Regions from separate parts of the Homo sapiens genome. Here region 2 is linked to region 1. The links come from fine-mapping of genetic effects on gene expression. Tissue or cell type: testis. Region 1 holds a variant in brackets; the other region holds the start of a gene. All regions are shown on one strand. Distances are between the middles of the regions.

Evidence for each region. PIP is the estimated chance that this variant, and not a neighbour inherited with it, causes the effect.
Region 2: it holds the start of CDH4, and the variant in region 1 is fine-mapped to the expression of CDH4 in testis (GTEx, PIP above 0.99).

Annotation. Positions count from the first base shown.
Region 1 is chr20:61,952,430-61,960,531 of GRCh38, forward strand. MIR1257 (microRNA 1257) reads right to left here and starts at 1,233; the gene lies at 1,117-1,233. RefSeq lists enhancers at 1-431, 1,242-1,741. The variant T/TC (reference allele first, on the strand shown) is at 4,317.
Region 2 is chr20:61,247,788-61,255,889 of GRCh38, forward strand. CDH4 (cadherin 4) reads left to right here and starts at 4,474. Exons shown (of 16, transcript NM_001794.5): 1 at 4,474-4,783; 2 at 7,039-7,150. The coding sequence starts at 4,727. RefSeq lists an enhancer at 6,578-7,270.

The DNA of each region.
Region 1 (8,102 bases):
GAGACCCTGGCCTGGGGCAGGCAGGGGCTCCCTCAGGGGGCTCAGAAGGGGTCAATGCTGCAGACCACAGGCCGGCCCAGCCTCAGGCACGGTCCACCTGGCACAGCACACTTCACAGTGTTGAATATACTGTTGTATTTGTTTCCTGAGGTAACAAAGTCCCACAAACTCGGTGGCTTAAAAGAAAGACATTTATGCTCTCCCAGTCCTGGAGGCCAAAAGTCTGAGATCAGTATCCCTGGGCCGAAATCAAGGGGTCGGCAAGGCTGAGCTCCCTCCGGGGAATTAGGGGACGAGCCCTCACTGCCTCTTCCAGCCTCCAGTTCCTTGGCTCACGCCCACATCACTCCCGTCTCCACCTCCATCTTCACTTCATCTTAGTGTAACCTCCCTCCATCTCCCTCTTACATATGGACACTTCCCATTGGATTTCGGGCCTATGACTAGTCCTGAAAGATCTCATCTTGAGACCTTCAACTTGATCATATCTGCAGAGACTCTATTTCCAAATAAGGTCACCTTCACGGGCTGTTTTTCTTTTAGGGCGGTGGGGGTGGGGGGGGGGGGATTTTTCAGCTGACCACAATTGTCAACATTAAAAAATCAAGATATTGTAGGGGTCCCACCTAGATATTGAGGAGGTGGACAACAGGAGGACTGGGTCTCTCCTTCATCCCTCAGCTGCCAGGATGGAGGGTTTGGGGGGGGTCATTTCTTACACAGCTCCCAGTAGGAGATGCTGTGTAGCCTTGGGAGTGTCACTTAGCTACCTCTGGGCTTCCTTGTCTGTTGCTGGGACCGTGTATCAGCTAGTTGCTGAGTAACAAACACAAACACGATCTCAGCAGCACAGAGTCAGCATTTGGTTGGCTGGTCCAGGCCAGGCCGCTGGGGCAGCTGAGCTCTGCCCCCCACTCCCTCATCCTCCCCCTGACCAGCAGGCTAGCCACCCTCACTGATGGCAGCAACACAGGACAGCAGCCTGGTCACCGCAGCTCTCAGTTCAGAGCACCACATGCCCCGTGAACATCCCCTCAGTCAAAGCAAGTCACATGGCTGAACCCACAGTCAAGGGGCAGGGAATTAGACTCCACCCCCTTAGTGGGGGAGCTTCAGAGGCACAGGGCAAGCGTGGTTGGCAGGGGTGAAGGATGGGGCCAGTGATGCCAGGGGCCCACAGGGGTGCATGGGGGTCAGAACCCATCATTCACTCCCCAAGCACAAGCCCAGGGCCAGCTGGCCCACAGGTCCCCCTGGTGCCCAGCATCCCCCCGTCCCCCTCCCATGGGGTGGGGCTCGCATCCAATGCCTGGTTCCAAGTGTCCTCCTCATCTTACCTGCATGGTGACCATCCAGGACGCTCTCCCTGAGCCCGCTGCTTACTGAGTGCCACGGAGGCCTGCAGGGGGAGTGGGCACACACAGGAGAGACGCATGATTTGCAATCTCGTTAATGAGCCGTAGCACAATCACAGACCTGCCCTGACAAGGAGCTGCACTCGTGGTAACATAAAACTGTCAGCCAGCTGGGCGCGGTGGTTCACGCCTGTAATCCCAGTACTTTGGGAGGCTGAGGCGGGAGGATCACCCGAGGTCGGGAGTTTGAGACTGGCCTGGCCATCGTGGCGAAACCCCGTCTCTACTAAAAATACAAAAATCAGCCAGGTGGTGGTGCATGCCTGTAATACCAGGTACTCAGGAGGCTGAGGCAGGAGAATTGCTTGAACCCAGGAGGCAGAGTTTGCAGCAAGTCAAGATCATGCCACTGCACTCCAGCCTGGTGACAGAGCGAGACTCTGTCTCAAAAAAAACAAATTTTTTTAATAAAAAAAAAACCTGTCAGCCAACGAAGCTCATTACAAGCTGCTCCTCAGACTTCCTGTCAGCTGGGACTGCATCCGCCTGTTCAGCCCTTCCAGGCCTGGAGCTGGAGCCCAGGAGGGAGGCCAAGGGGTCCCACTGCAGCTGGGGTGCTGACTGTTAGCTACCAGCCCTTCCGTGGGCCTGTCAGGTTCAGTCTCGGATGCTGTGGGGCCCTGGGACCCCTCATGGGAAGCTGACTTGGACCGTTCAAGAGCCCTATCTAGCCCTCAGCAGGACAAGATCCTCTCAGCAACATCCCCAACACACACTCAACCAGACAGCCTGCAAAGAGCCAGTTCTGTATTTGGACAGCTCGGCTCCCCATGGTACCCTTGTACTCCATGGTAAACCAAAACAAGCTTCTTTGTAACTTCCACCTACTAAAACCATTCCATTACCACCAACTAAGACGGATTCTCCACCTGCCCATCCCAAACCTACCCCCAGGTGTCCCGTGTCTCCTTGTCTCCTGCATCTGCTGCCCACGTGCAGGCTGAGTGTGAAATAACAAAGGACATCCTCCTGGTGGCGCGGGGCAGAGAGCCAACTCACAGAGGGGAGGACATCCACGCTGGCCACGAGCCAGCTCCCCACAATGACCAGCCCAGCCACCCCGATGGTGGGGGAGAATGGGTCCTCCCTCTGCGATCTGAGAGTTCCACTCAGTAGCCCTCAAACCCTACTCCACACACACCTGTTCGCCCTGAATCTAATGTGCTCACTTTGAGCTATCTTCCTGTATGCCTTTTCCCAGGCTGATACCCTCTTTTCTTTGCTTTTGCAAACTAGCTGAATTTCTTAGCCAGAGCCATCAGGCAAGAGAAAGAAATAAAGGACATTCAAATTGGAAAAGAGGAATTCAAACTACCTGTTTGCCAATGGTATGATCTTATACCTAGAAAGCCCTAAAGACTCCTCCAAAAGACTCCTAGATTCGATAAATGAATTCAGTAAAGCCTCGGTCACAACATCAATGTAGCACTGCTATACACCAACGATGACCAAGCTGAGAATCAAATCAAGAACTCAATCCCTTTTACAATAGCTGCAAAAAAATAAAATACCTAGGAATATATGTACCCAAGGGGGTGAAAGATCTCTACAAGGAGAACTACAAACACTGCTGAAGGAAATCACAGATGACACAAATGGAAATATATCCCATGCTCACTTATTGGAAGAATCAATATTGTGAAAATGACCAAACTGCCCAAAGCAATCTACAGATTCAGTGCAATTCCTATCAAAATACCAACATTCCTTTTTCACAGAATTAGAAAAACAATGCTAAAATTCATTTGGAACCAAAAAAGAGCCTCAATAGGCAAAGCAATCTTAAGCAAAAAGAACAAATCTGGAGGCATCACATTACCTGACTTCCAACTATACTACAGGGCTATAGTTACCAAACAGCATGATACTGGTGCAAAAGTAGATAACAGACCAATAGAACAGAATAGAGAATGAAGAAATAAAGCCAAATCCTTACGACCAACTGATCTTTGATAAAGCAAACAAAACCGTATTCAATAGATGCTAGGAAAAACTGGTGAGCCACGTGTAGAAGAATGAAACTGGATACCTATCTTTCAGCATATACAAAAATCAACTCAAATGAATTAAAGACTTTAATCTAAGATCTGAAACCATAAAAATTCTAGAAGAAAACCTAGGCAAAACTCTTCTGGACATCAGCCTTGGCAAAGAATTTATGACCAAGACCCCAAAAGCAAATGCAACAAAACCAAATATAAATAAGTGGGACCTAATTAAACTAAAAACCTTCTGCACTGCAAAAGAAAGAATCATTAGAGTAAACAGAACACCCGCAGAATGGGAGAAAATGTTTGCAAACTATGCATTTGATAAAGAACTAATAATCAGAATCTGCAAGGAACTCAAATCAGCAAGAAAAGAAAAACAATCTCATTAAAAAGTGGGCAAATGACACGAATAGACATTTCTCAAAAGAAGATAAACAAATGGCCAAGAAACACATGAAAAATGCTTGACATCACTAATCATTAGGGAAATGCAAATTAAAACCACAATGAGATACCACCTTATTCCAGCCAGAATGGCCATTATTAATGTTGCGGTAAACTGAGGAACGGAGAGACCACTATGGAGTACAGGAGGATTGTTGTTTATTTTAGGTACGTACCGGCTCAGAGGACTCACATCCAAAAAGCTGAGCATTGAACAAAGACTGAGCAGGGTTTTTATAAGCGGACTTACAAGAGTAAAACAAAGCAGTTAATCGTACAGTGACAGGTCACGTAATCTATAGCGTAACTGTTGACTTAGCATAACTTGTGGCCTTGCATAGCTAGTGACCTCACAGCTGTGTCAAAAGAAAAACAAGAACTAGCTAAATACAGACATTTGTAAAACATAATCATGCTTAAGAAGCCTGGGAAAGGAGTAACAGTAAAAGAATTTGTCTTTCTTTTT[T/TC]CCCTCAACCTTGCTCTGGAGTGGGGGTGTCTGGAGCCCATTCCTTTGGCGGTGGCTACTCAAACAGTGTTATCTTATAACTGTCCTTGAAGTGAGCCTGCTGCACTTTCCCCTGCTAGGCAGAGGAAAACTTGTTCTTTTCTTTTTAACCTTTGCCTTGCCTGTTACTTTTCTTAGAGTGAATGAATGCATATTTATTTTTAAATTTCTGCCTCACTAAAAAGTCAAAAAACAATAGATGTTGGTGTGGAGGTGGTGAAAGGGAATGCTTACACACTGCTGGCAGGAATGTAAACTAATACAACCTCTATAGAAAACAGTATGGAGATTTCTCAAAGAACTAAAAGTAGATTAGCCATTCGACCCAGCAATCCCTCTACTGGGCATCCACCCAAAGGAAAGGAAGTCATTACCTCAAAAAGACACCTGCACATGTGTGTTTATCACAGCACAATTCACAACTGCAAAGACATGGAACCAACCCAAGTGCCTATCAGCTGATGAGCAGATAAAGAAAGTGTGAGATAGATTTAGATAGATAGATAGATAGATAGATAGATGGATGGATGGAAGGATGGACGGACGGATGGTCGGACAGACAGATAATGAAATACACACATATATATGTCATGAAATACAACTCAGTCATAAAAAGAATGAAATAATGCATTTTGTAGCAACTTGGATGGAACTGCAGACCATTATTCTAAGTGATGCAACTCAGGAATAGAAAACCAAATACTGTATGTTCTCACTTATAAGCGGGAGCTAAGCTGTGGGTACACAAAGGCATGCAGAGTGGTATAATGAACACTGGAGAATCAAAGAGGAGGAGGGAGGGATGGGGATGAGGGACAAAAAACTACCTATTGGGAGGCCGGGTGTGATGGCTCACCCCTGTAATCCAAGCACTTTGGGAGGCTGAGGCAGGCGGATCACCTGAGGTCAGGAGTTGAAGACAAGCCTGACCAACATGGAGAAACCCATCTCTACTAAAAATACAAAATTAGCCGGGTGTGGTGGCGCACGCCTGTAATCCCAGCTGCTCAGTAGGCTGAAGCGGGAGAATCACTTGAACCTGGGAGGCAGAGGTTGCGGTGAGCCAAGATCATGCCATTGCACTCCAGCCTGGGCAACAAGAGCGAATCTCTGTCTCAAAAAAAAAAAAAAAAACTACCTATTGGGTACAATGTACACTACTCAGGTGATGGGTGCACTAAAATCTCAGACTTCACCACTACACAATTCATCCATGGAACCAAAAACCACCTGTGCAAAGCTATTGAAATAAAATAAAAACTAGAGCTGGGCACAGTGGCTCACACCTGTAACCTCAGCACTTTGGGAGGCCAAGGCGGGGGATCGCTTGAGCCTAGCAGTTCAAGACCAGCCTGGGAAACATAGCAAGACCCCATCTCTACTAAAAAAAAAAATTGTTTAAAATATCCTAGTGTAGTGACGTGCGTCTGTGGTCCCAGCTACTTGGGAAGTTGAGGCATGCAGATCACTTGAGCCCAGGAGGCCAAGGCTGCTGTGAGCTGTGATCACACATCTGCACTCCAGCCTGGATGACAGAGCAAGACCCCGTCTCAGAAAACAACAACAAAACTCTCTGAGGTATAATTTACATACAACAAAATTCACCAATTTTAAATATAATTTGATGAGTTCTGACAAATGTACACAGTTGTGTAACCACCAGCACGATGATTACGTGGAACATTCCCATCACACCAAAACTAGTTGTGTAACCACCAGCACGATGATTACGTGGAACATTCCCATCACACCAAAACTTTCCCTCCCTGGGCCTCTTTACACTCAATCCCCTCCTCCACCCTCGCCCTGGGCTCCTGTATTCTATTCGCTATTCCTGTAGTTTTGACTTTCATATAAATGAAACCACCCAGGATGCAGCATTTTGAGTCTGTCCTCTATCACCAAACATAATGCTTTTGAGAGTTATCGTTGCTGCACCCTGGGGTAGCTCATTCTGTTTTTCTAGCTGAAAAACTTTCCTTATGTGGGTGTACTACAATTTATTTTATCCATTCACCTGTTGAAGGGTATTTGGCTTGTCTCCCGTTCACGGCTATTATGAATAAAGCCGCTATGAATGTCGAAGTCAAGTTCTTTACATGGACAGAGGCCTTCTCCTGGATGGCCACCTGGGGTGGAACTGCTGGATCACGTGGTGACTGAGGTGTAACTTTTCAAGAAACTGCCAGGCTGATTTCTAAAATGTCTGTAGCATGTTACACTCCCCCATGCAGGGTCTGGGGGTTCCAGCGAATCTACACCCTTCCCTGCGCTGGCATGGTCCGTCCTGTACATTCCAGCCTTTCCAGGAGGAGCGCAGCAGTGTCCCACTGTGGTTCAAATTTGTGTTTCCTTGATGACGAATGACGCTGAGCATCTTTGTGTGTGCTCATTTGCCATCTGTACTTCTTCTTTGGGGAAGTCTGTTCCAATCCCTTGTCTCACAGGAATGTTCGTCTCTATATTTGGCTACATAGTTGCCATTTCTGGTGCTATTTCTTTACTGTTGTGTCCGTTTGATATGACTTTCCTTCTGCTTACAGAGCTTACTTTAACCTTACTTAATATGTTGAGGATGCTGAGGCAGGAGAATAGGGAATTGGGGTAACCAAGGGTTAAGGCAGAAGCAAAAGAGCAGCAGGCTCCGCCAGCTCCAGGCAAGACTGGGCGGCACACAGGCCGCATCCCCACCCCTGTGATGACAAGACAGAAGCCTCCACGTCAGCCTCTGATTGGCCGCAGATCAATCCTTCATAGGGTGTAACCAATGGGAGGCTTCTAAAGGGCACCTAGGGGTGTTACCAAATCTTTTAGCTTTATAAAAACCTGGGGAGCATTGCAATGGGGGGGATAGTGTCTTGAGCCACTTGCTCGAGTCCGCTCCCACTCTGCGGAATGTACTTCCGCCTCAATGTAGCTGTGCCTTCGACTCAGCAAAACAGAAATAATATTCCAAATACGCACGATGGTAAGAACCAACAGGAACCCTCATATCCTGCTACTGCAGCCGCACCTATGATTGGTTATCCCGGGCCAAAAAGACATTTTCAGTAAGACTTTAGAAGTATATGTAAATGTCTGTTTTTCACAATTGCTCCATATATTGTGTGTTTTCAGACAAGACAGTTATTTAAGAAACGGGAATTGCAGAAATGGCTGTAGTGCAGCGGTAATATTTAAGTCGACTAGTTATCCACGTTCCTGAAACAATTTCTAAGGTTTTTTTTTTGTAGTAGAAAATGTAGGCAGTGTTTTCACAAAAGTAAATGTACAGTGATTTGAAATACAATAAATGAAGGCAATGCATGGCGTTCCAGTAAACATTTTAAAAATAAATAAATAAAAATCTGTGCTTTCGTTACTCCTTTCTTTCGTTGCTTGCCTTTCATTGCTTCGTTCTTTTGTTGCTTTGTTTGTGCATTTTGTTCAATTCTTTGTTCAACACACCAAGAACCTGGACAACCCACAGTCAAGACGTTCCACCCGGTAACAATGGGACATCACTTTAACATTGCCGGGACACAGGTCTGATGGCGATGAACTCTTTCAATTTTTGTGTTTCTGAAAAACTAATTTCACCTTTTCTAAAGAAAAAAATGTTTTCATTGGGTAAAGAATTTTAAATTGGCTGGGCGCGGTGGCTCTCGCCTATAATCCCAGCACTCTGGGAGGCCGAGGCAGGTGGATCACCTGAGGTCAGGAGTTCAAGATCAGCCTGGCCAACATGGTGAAACCCTGTCTTTACTA
Region 2 (8,102 bases), 700 kb before region 1:
TTGTTGCATGGTTTGACTGTTTTGTTTTGAATTTTTTTCCCCTTGTGAATTGCATCTCCTGCTCCATGGAAATTTCCAAAGATTCAAAGACCCCCAAGTCCCAGGGGAGTGAGAGAAGCAGCCTCACCTGGTTCTTCCTCAGAACCCAGAGTGCATGGTGTGCTTCTTTGGAGCACAGTCATGACTAAGGCTGTAAGTCTGAACTCAGCCAGCCCTGGGTTCCAGGTCAAGCTCCTCCCCTCTTTTCATGCCTCAGTGTCTTCATCTGTATAATGGGGGAGTGCAGGAAGTACCCCAGGGTACAGTGCAGCCAGTGGGGGTCATCGTTGGTATCATTGCTTTATGGGTCCACCCCCTGGGGGCTCCTAGAGGGTTAGAGCCTGGGCCACATGTGGAGAGGGGAACACCCTGTTCCCCCACCCTCAAGGCTCTCGGAGTGGCCAGAGGGCGGACACACAGAAAGGAGCTCCACCACACTGTGAGGAGAGAGGTGTCCACCAAGCCCTGCAGCAGCTAAAGCCAACACAGTGCTCCGAGAGAAAGGAGCTCCGGAGGGAGCAGCAGAGGCACAGGCACAGAGCCTGGATGGGGGCGTGTGCTTCTGGATGGACTAGAGGGTCAGGATTCTGCTGGTGGCGAGTGGGCCAGGCTGAGCATGAGACTGGAAAAGGAAAGAAGACAGCCCTAGGTTGGAAGGGGACATTTGCATCTTTCCCCCTGGGATTTCTGCTTCCAAGGGATGCACCTCACAGCCATGCCCCCAGGTCCTAAGTCACGCTGCCTGGAGTAGAATCTCAGCCCACCCCGTGCCGGCGGGTGACCCAGGCCAGGCTGCTCACATACCCAAGTCTGTCCTGTCTGTGGACCATGGGCATCACCACCTCCGTCCTATGTGAGGATCGCATGGGATCATGACTGAAAACCTTCGACACAGTACCTGCCACACAGTACATAGGGATCCCTGTTCATGGAGAAAGATAGATTTTGAAAAACCTACAACAATAACTCTATTCCTTTCTTTATTCCCAGTGTAGCTTCACCTCAGCGGGTGAGCGTTATTGGAATGGAAGGCAGGGAGCGATCTGTACTGGTCTCTCTGCTGCCTGCTCGCCCCTCTCAATCTCTCCTTTGCTTTTTGCTTTAAGATCGCTCTTCTCTATTGCATGCAGGGAGTTTTCTTGAGCTGGGTAGCAGGCTGATTCCATTCATTTCTACAGTGCCTTGAATATCTTCAATCGCCCACAAAGACAATGTTTTATTCTACGAACACACCTTTTGCCAACATCTCACTGCTTTCTGTACAAAACAGCCTTTTTGTCGAACATTGAAGTGTCTACAATAATAACTATCAATAGGGAAGGAAACAAATTAACATCCAACGAATATAGGGAAATGTGGCCCTGATACAAGCACTTGGTTTTTGCTTCTAAAGAGGAACCCCTTCCCAGACTCACCTCATCGAGAGGGAGACAGAGAAGTCTATCAAGCTTAGCAAACATCTGTAGTCCAATTACTGTCAACAGTTTACAGGTGTTGAGAGCAAACAGTCACTTATACACTACCTCCCAAATGCATTCTCTTAATCTCTCTTAGAAACAAACGCACACATTTTTCTAGGGCTCTTTATCCAAAGTGCAGAGAGACTAGCTCCTCCTCCAGGCCAGCTGTGGTCTTCCCTGCACTGGGTGGACCAAAGGCAGGCCACAGTCCCACTGGCCAATGTGCCAAACACTGTGCCAGGGTTTCTCCAGCTACCCCAGGCAGAGGCCCAGGCTCCACCCCTGGAGGTCCAGGTTCTGGAAATCCAGGGTGGGGCATAGGAGAGAGCATTTTTCTGATGCTTCCAGCTGCTGCTCTGTTACGTGGGACATACTGTCTGTGGGACAGGCCGTGATTCTCAAATGCTAGTGGCATGAGCATGGACTGGAGAGATTGTTACAAGGTCAGCTTCCAGGCCCCACTTGCAAAAGCTCCAAGTCCATGGATTTCAGGTGGAGCCTAGGAACTGGCATTTTTCATGAGTTTCTCTGTGATTTTGTTGCAGATGATTGCAGACCAGAGGTGGGCGTGGCGGGGAATCCCATCAGCATTCAGAATCAATGTAGCAGGTCTGGGGTAAGGCCTGAGTTTCTGCATTTTTAACAAGCTCCTGGGGGATCTTGATGCTGCTGGTCTGGGGACCACACTCAGAGTGACAGGCTGAAGACCATTCTTTGGAGGCACTGCTTTGTATTTTAGGTCATATTTTTCTTTTCTGTCTCAGCAATCTTTGCTGCTGCATTCAGAGTAAGTCTGATAAACCAATGCTCTCTACTGGACTCCTGTCAGTTACTGCAGTGTTTCTGAAACTATGTATTTCGGAAAATGCGAGTTCCCGTAAGACATTACAGCTGTGTAAGAAGGTTTCTTTGAACAAAGTTGGGGCCATGCTGCGTGTGCCAGGGTCCCAGCTCTGGGTGAGAATGCTGGCACTGCAGCTTTCCCCGTGCCTGCCCTCTGCACCCTCCTCTGCCTGACTGTATAGTGGAGTTAGAAGGACTCCAAGAGCAACTTTACATAAAGCTCCTACACATGTCCCTGGCACATAGCTAGCACCTTGTAAGGACAGGCTATTGTCAAACTCTACCCTTTCTGGAAATCACGCTGCAGTAGACTCAAGATTCATTCAGTAGTAGAGGGAGATGTGCTTAACACAGTGTTTGGAGTTCAGGACCCACCTGCTCCTGGACCCCAGTCTCCCTGCCACACACTCATACCTTTTCTTTTTCAAATTGGCGCGCTCCTCAGCGCTTCAACAGTTTCGCAGAGCACGTTGGAGCAAATGCGGGGGTCTGTGATGCCTCTCCAAAGAAATAACTCGCATAATGCTCAGGCCTCCTGCAGACAAAGGTGTATCCCCAGCGACAGATATTTTAAGAAAATAGACCAGGGACACAAGACAAGAGAGCTGTCTTGGTGTCTAAAGCAGTCTTGGACAGCTTCTGATGTCGCTCGAGCAGTGGTGAAGCACCTTGAATAAGGAGGAAAGCAGAGGGGGCGTCTTCCCAAAGGACGGGCACATGGCCGAGGAATGGAATTCTCTGTCCATGAGGATTTTGGATGGATCTGTTCATGAAACCTCACTGGCTACGCAGGACCTTCGAGTGAGTCTAAACCTCCAGCCATGTCAACTGGTAACCTCTCCTTCTTCGGCTAGGTGGGGAGTGGGACAAGGCCATAACTGATAGGAGTCCAGGCTGGGGCAGATTTTGTGTCTCCTGACTAGTTCCATAGTTAAGTTGCAAAACCGAATCTCGCCTTGTGCTCTCGGATGTAGTGCTTACTCTGGTCCTCTGGGGTTATCTAAAATCTGGTTTCCTTAAGCGTAAGGCAGAGCTCTAACCGGGAGACCACCCTGCCCCCAAGGGTGGGGGTTCTGGGAGGGAGAGAGGGAAGCGGCTGCTCTGTAGCTTTCTCTACTGGCTTGCCCAAGTGGACTCTGATCTTGGAGCTCAACAGTGTCACTCAATCTTCCACCCTCTCCTTTGCAACCTATTTCTTAAACCAGAACTAATGTATTCTGGACACAGAGTCCCTGAAACCCCAGACAAAGAAAATTCGATGTATCTGAACAAACAAAACCGCGTTTCTTTAAATCTCCAAGCCAAAAGGAAAAGTGCAGAAACATTTACTCACTGTCCGACCTGTACATATATTTTACCTGATAACCCTTAAAGAAGTGCCCCCCAGTTCAGCCATCACCCATGCAGGGCAAAGGGAGCTGGAGCTGGCCCAGCCTGTCGGCGCAGACACTCCTGACAGCTCCTGTCTGGGCACTTCTTTCTTTCTTGGAGCTTCTAATTTCTTTCTTGGCTTCTGAGGCCTAACAGGGTGTTTTGATGCACACACAGGAATTACTACCGTCCCCAATCCTAGGGTACATCCCTAGCCCAGGCCAGGGCTTTGAGTTTTCCTAGGAGCGGGAGGGTCTGCAAAGCCCCACAGGCTGAAATCTCAGCGTGGCCCTCTGCTCATCTGCTCCAGGTGGAAACTCTCACCCCTGAGCTGCCCGACCTGGGTTCAAGCCCGGGTCAGGGGAGTTAGCAAGGAGACACCTGAAAAATAAAAGGACAGAATGGAAGTGCACACTCCCACCGCGGGCCCGGGCGGGAAGTCGGACTAAGACCGCGGCGGGACCGCCCCATCCAGAAAGGGTGCCCCGGGTGTGGGGGCGGAAACCCCAGCGCTGTCTTCAGTCTCCACACCCGCGCCTTTTTCCCCTGGAAAACGAGCGTCCTTGGCCTCTTCGGCCGCAACCGGGCGGCTCCAGACGTCCAGGAGGGCAGAGGCTGGGCTGGTGCGGCGCGGGGGGCGCGGGCGCGGGCTCTGCGCCTTTAAGGCCCGCGTCGGCAGAGCGAGCGCAGGGGCCGGGCGGCGGGGCGGGGCCTCGGCGGGGCGGCCGCGGCTTCACCTGCAGCTCCGAGCGCGCGGAACAGAGGCGCGGGCGGCTGCGAGGCCGGCGGACGCACCGGCCCGAGGGAACGCGCCGCCGGCCGGACTTGGCCTGGCTCCCGGAGCCGGGGCGGCGAGCGCGGCGGGCGCAGCGGGGCTGGAGGCTCCGGGCAGGCGCGGGGGAGCGGCGGCGGCGGCGGCGATCGGAGCGGCGGCGGTGGTCTCGGCGGCGGCGGCGGCGGCGGCGGCAGGGAGCGGGCTCCCGGTGCCGGGCACCGGGCGGGCGGCGGGGAAGATGACCGCGGGCGCCGGCGTGCTCCTTCTGCTGCTCTCGCTCTCCGGCGCGCTCCGGGTAAGTTGCCGCCTCCCGCCCCCGCCGTTCGGAAGCCCCGGGCAGCGGGAGGTCGTCCCCGGATCCCGCGGGGCGCTCACACACCCGGCGGGGCTCTCCCGGGCTCCCCCGCCGCGCTCCCCGCTGCATCCAGCCCGGCGCCCGCGCTCGGCGAAGCTGCCTGCGGTCGGCAGGAGCGGGAAGCCGCCTGGGCAGCGGGGAGCGGCGGAGCAGGGTGGGAGTGGGGCTCGGTGGAGGACCCGGGGAGCTCCGCCTGCACCGGACCCGCCGAGCCTCCCTCGAACGCCCAAAGCCCGTAGCCGCTACCCGGAGCTCGGCTTGCCTGCATGGGGCAGGCTTCCACTGGCGGAGCCGGCGCGCCCTCCATCGCCCGGGAGCCGCGCGCCGCGGGAGTTGCCGAGCCCAGCCCCGGCCGTGGCTGAAGGCGTGGGGCGCCCGGCGGCTGCGGGCCAGGGATCCGCGAGTGCGGGGCGCCTGCCCGACCTCTCCTGCCCAAGGCCTGGGGGTCCGTCTAGCGGCGCCGCTCAGTTCTGTGGGTGCCGGCAGGACCCGCGCTGCGGGTGGGCGGCGGGGTAGGACTGCGGGGCACTCTCACCCCCGAGCCCTCGGCGGGGCTGGAGCCTGCGTGTCCGGCGGGGCCCCGGGGGCTGGGAGCTGGGCCGGGCTTGGGCCGGGAAGCCGGACGCCGGGCGGGCGCGGCGCGGGAGGGCGCCCCGGGAGGGCGAGCGGGTCTCCCGCTGCCTCTGCAGAGCCCCGCGGGCCGGATTGCCAGCTTTGCTCTGCGCCTGGCGAGGTGCGCGGCCCGCGGGGGCAGAGAGCGCGGCGGCTCCGGGGGCGCCCCTGGGCGGAGGCGGAGGGGCGGCGGGAGTTGCAGGAACCCCCTCTCGTGGCCGATCGGCCTCGCTGCCTTCTCCCGGGCAGCGCTGTTGTAACCTCGGAAATAAACAAGTGCCAGCGGCGGGAGGCCCGCTCCGAGGCCGCGGGGCGCTGGGGGACGCGCTGGGCACACGCTTCGGGCGGGCGGAAACTTTCCTGGGCGAGTTGAGCCTCCCACCGGGCTGCGGGTGCGATTTGGAGCTTCGTGGCCGATGAAGAAAGCCGCGGTTTAGAGCTTTTCGTAAGGAATGACCCTGCGTCCCGCTCTCCTCCCTCGGTGCTGGGGGTAGAGGGGCGCCCTCCGCGGTGCCGGCGTCGGGAAGCCTGGAGCTCCGGGCTGGGGGCGGCCTCCGGAGTCGAAGCATGGGCGGGCGACGGCAGCGCGCGGAGCTGGAGGAGGCGGCGGGCGGGAGGCGCCACTGCCCGGTGCGGGCTGCACCCGAGGCTTCCTGCGCTCGCCGGGGAGCCAAGCACCGCTGTGCTCCTGCTCCTTCAGCGGGGCTGGCTTCCCGCTTGCACACACTGCCTCTCCCTCCACCACCTCCTCCTGCCTGTCACGCCCCCTCCCAGAAGCTTGGTCGGAGGGCCCTGTCGTCCACCCCATCCTTCCCTGGCCCTGTGCCATGGGCTCTAGACTTCCCCACTGAGCAGGAAAGGCGAGCGAGCTCCGGAGGACAGGAGGAGACCCCCTTTCCGGTCAGTTAGGGGAGCCGTCTCCCTGCCTGGGCTGGAGATGGGGGCTCCGAGGGTGAAAATGCGGGCTGAAGACTAGAAGGTGGAAGCGCCCCCACTGCCTCCTCACCCCAGCCACCGGCAGCCTCCCGCAGAGCTGCCTTCTTCGACCGGCTCCGGACCTAGTCCTAGAGAATCTTCTTCCTTTCTCTCCTCTTTCTCCTCCCTCCCGGTGACCTGGAGAGGAGACAAGAAGCTGCCTCCTCCGCCTTACCAAGAGCGCAGAGCGGTGGGCCTAAAGCGCGAATGGTCTGAGCAGAGCCGCCCACACTTTGGCCTCCCTGCCCTTAGTGGCTTCGGGAGCAGCGGCTGAAGTCTTCTGTCTCTGCCTTTTGGTCATTTCTCAGGCGTCTCCTCTGCCAATAAGGCCCTGGCCGGCCTGGCTTCCCCAACAGTCCGTCCTTCACTCCCTGCCTGCTGTGTGTGGGGCTGGGGAAGGATGCTCCTGGTCTGTAGCCTGGAGAGTGCTCCCTAAAGTCCCCAGAGAGCAGAGGAGCAGACGGGGTATCGCGTCTGGGTGGAGACGGTGGCCTGCCAGCCTTTCTCTCTTAGCCAGAGACCTTTTACACAGCAGGCCCTGGATGAATGTTGGTTGGATTAAATTTCTGTGAACTTATTGTTTTACACTCTCCCCTTTGTGTTCTCAGGCCCATAATGAGGATCTTACAACTAGAGAGACCTGCAAGGCTGGGTTCTCTGAAGATGATTACACGGCATTAATCTCCCAAAATATTCTAGAAGGGGAAAAGCTACTTCAAGGTAAGGCGGGGTGTGGAGGGGTGGGAGTGAATTGCTGCCATGCTTTTCCTTGGGGAAACATGTAGATGGGAGAGGCAAGGCTTGCCTCATCTTTGTGCTCTCTGTGAAATGATGGTGGTGAAGTCCACGAGGTGCAAATTGGTTGACCTGAAAGGCGTTTTGCATAACAGGTGAATGATTCAGAACCCCGGTCATTTTTGAGTGAAGTGAATCATTTCCTGGGCAGCAAACTGTAATTCGGATGTAACATCACCCAAATAGTGTGCAGAGAGAGACCTTCTTACCAAGTATTTTTATGCATGAAGTTCTGGATACTTAAATTATCCCTGCTTTGAAATGTATGATAAAGCAGACGATGTTGTTGGAAATGCGGTAAATAAGCCCACAGACGGTCTGTTCACAAATGTGGCATTCATTTTCATTACTGCCCCACTGACAACACGAAAACACACATGCAGGAGGGAACTACCAATTAGCTTTATCGTAATTGCAGGATTATATCCACACTTGTGATGGGAAAGTCAGAGACAGCTTCAAAACTCAGATGACAGTAGATCATCCTGCTTATTGGTCTGTTTCCCTTTCAAGACAAACTAATTAGACTTTATATTTGCATAGGAGGGGACATAAATCAGTTCTGTGCCATGAGCACCTTGGCTGTGAGCCTTTCCTCTCTGCATCAGTTTCCTGGAAGTGGCAGCCTTTGAATTGATTTCAAAGCGATAGAGGAAGAGGACTTTTGATAAAGTATCGAAGCTAAATTTCCACATTCAGGACTGTTGACTGCCCTACCGGTTTTGTGTCCCAGGGAATGTAAACTTTTCCCTCCAGAACTGACAGCGGTTCCTGTGTATGTGTGTGTGTGCATGCATGTGCGTGAACTCGCTCACGCTTATAGTGAAGTGATTTTTCAGATCCTCGCCCTTCAAGACAGAACTTGTTGACGTGCCTT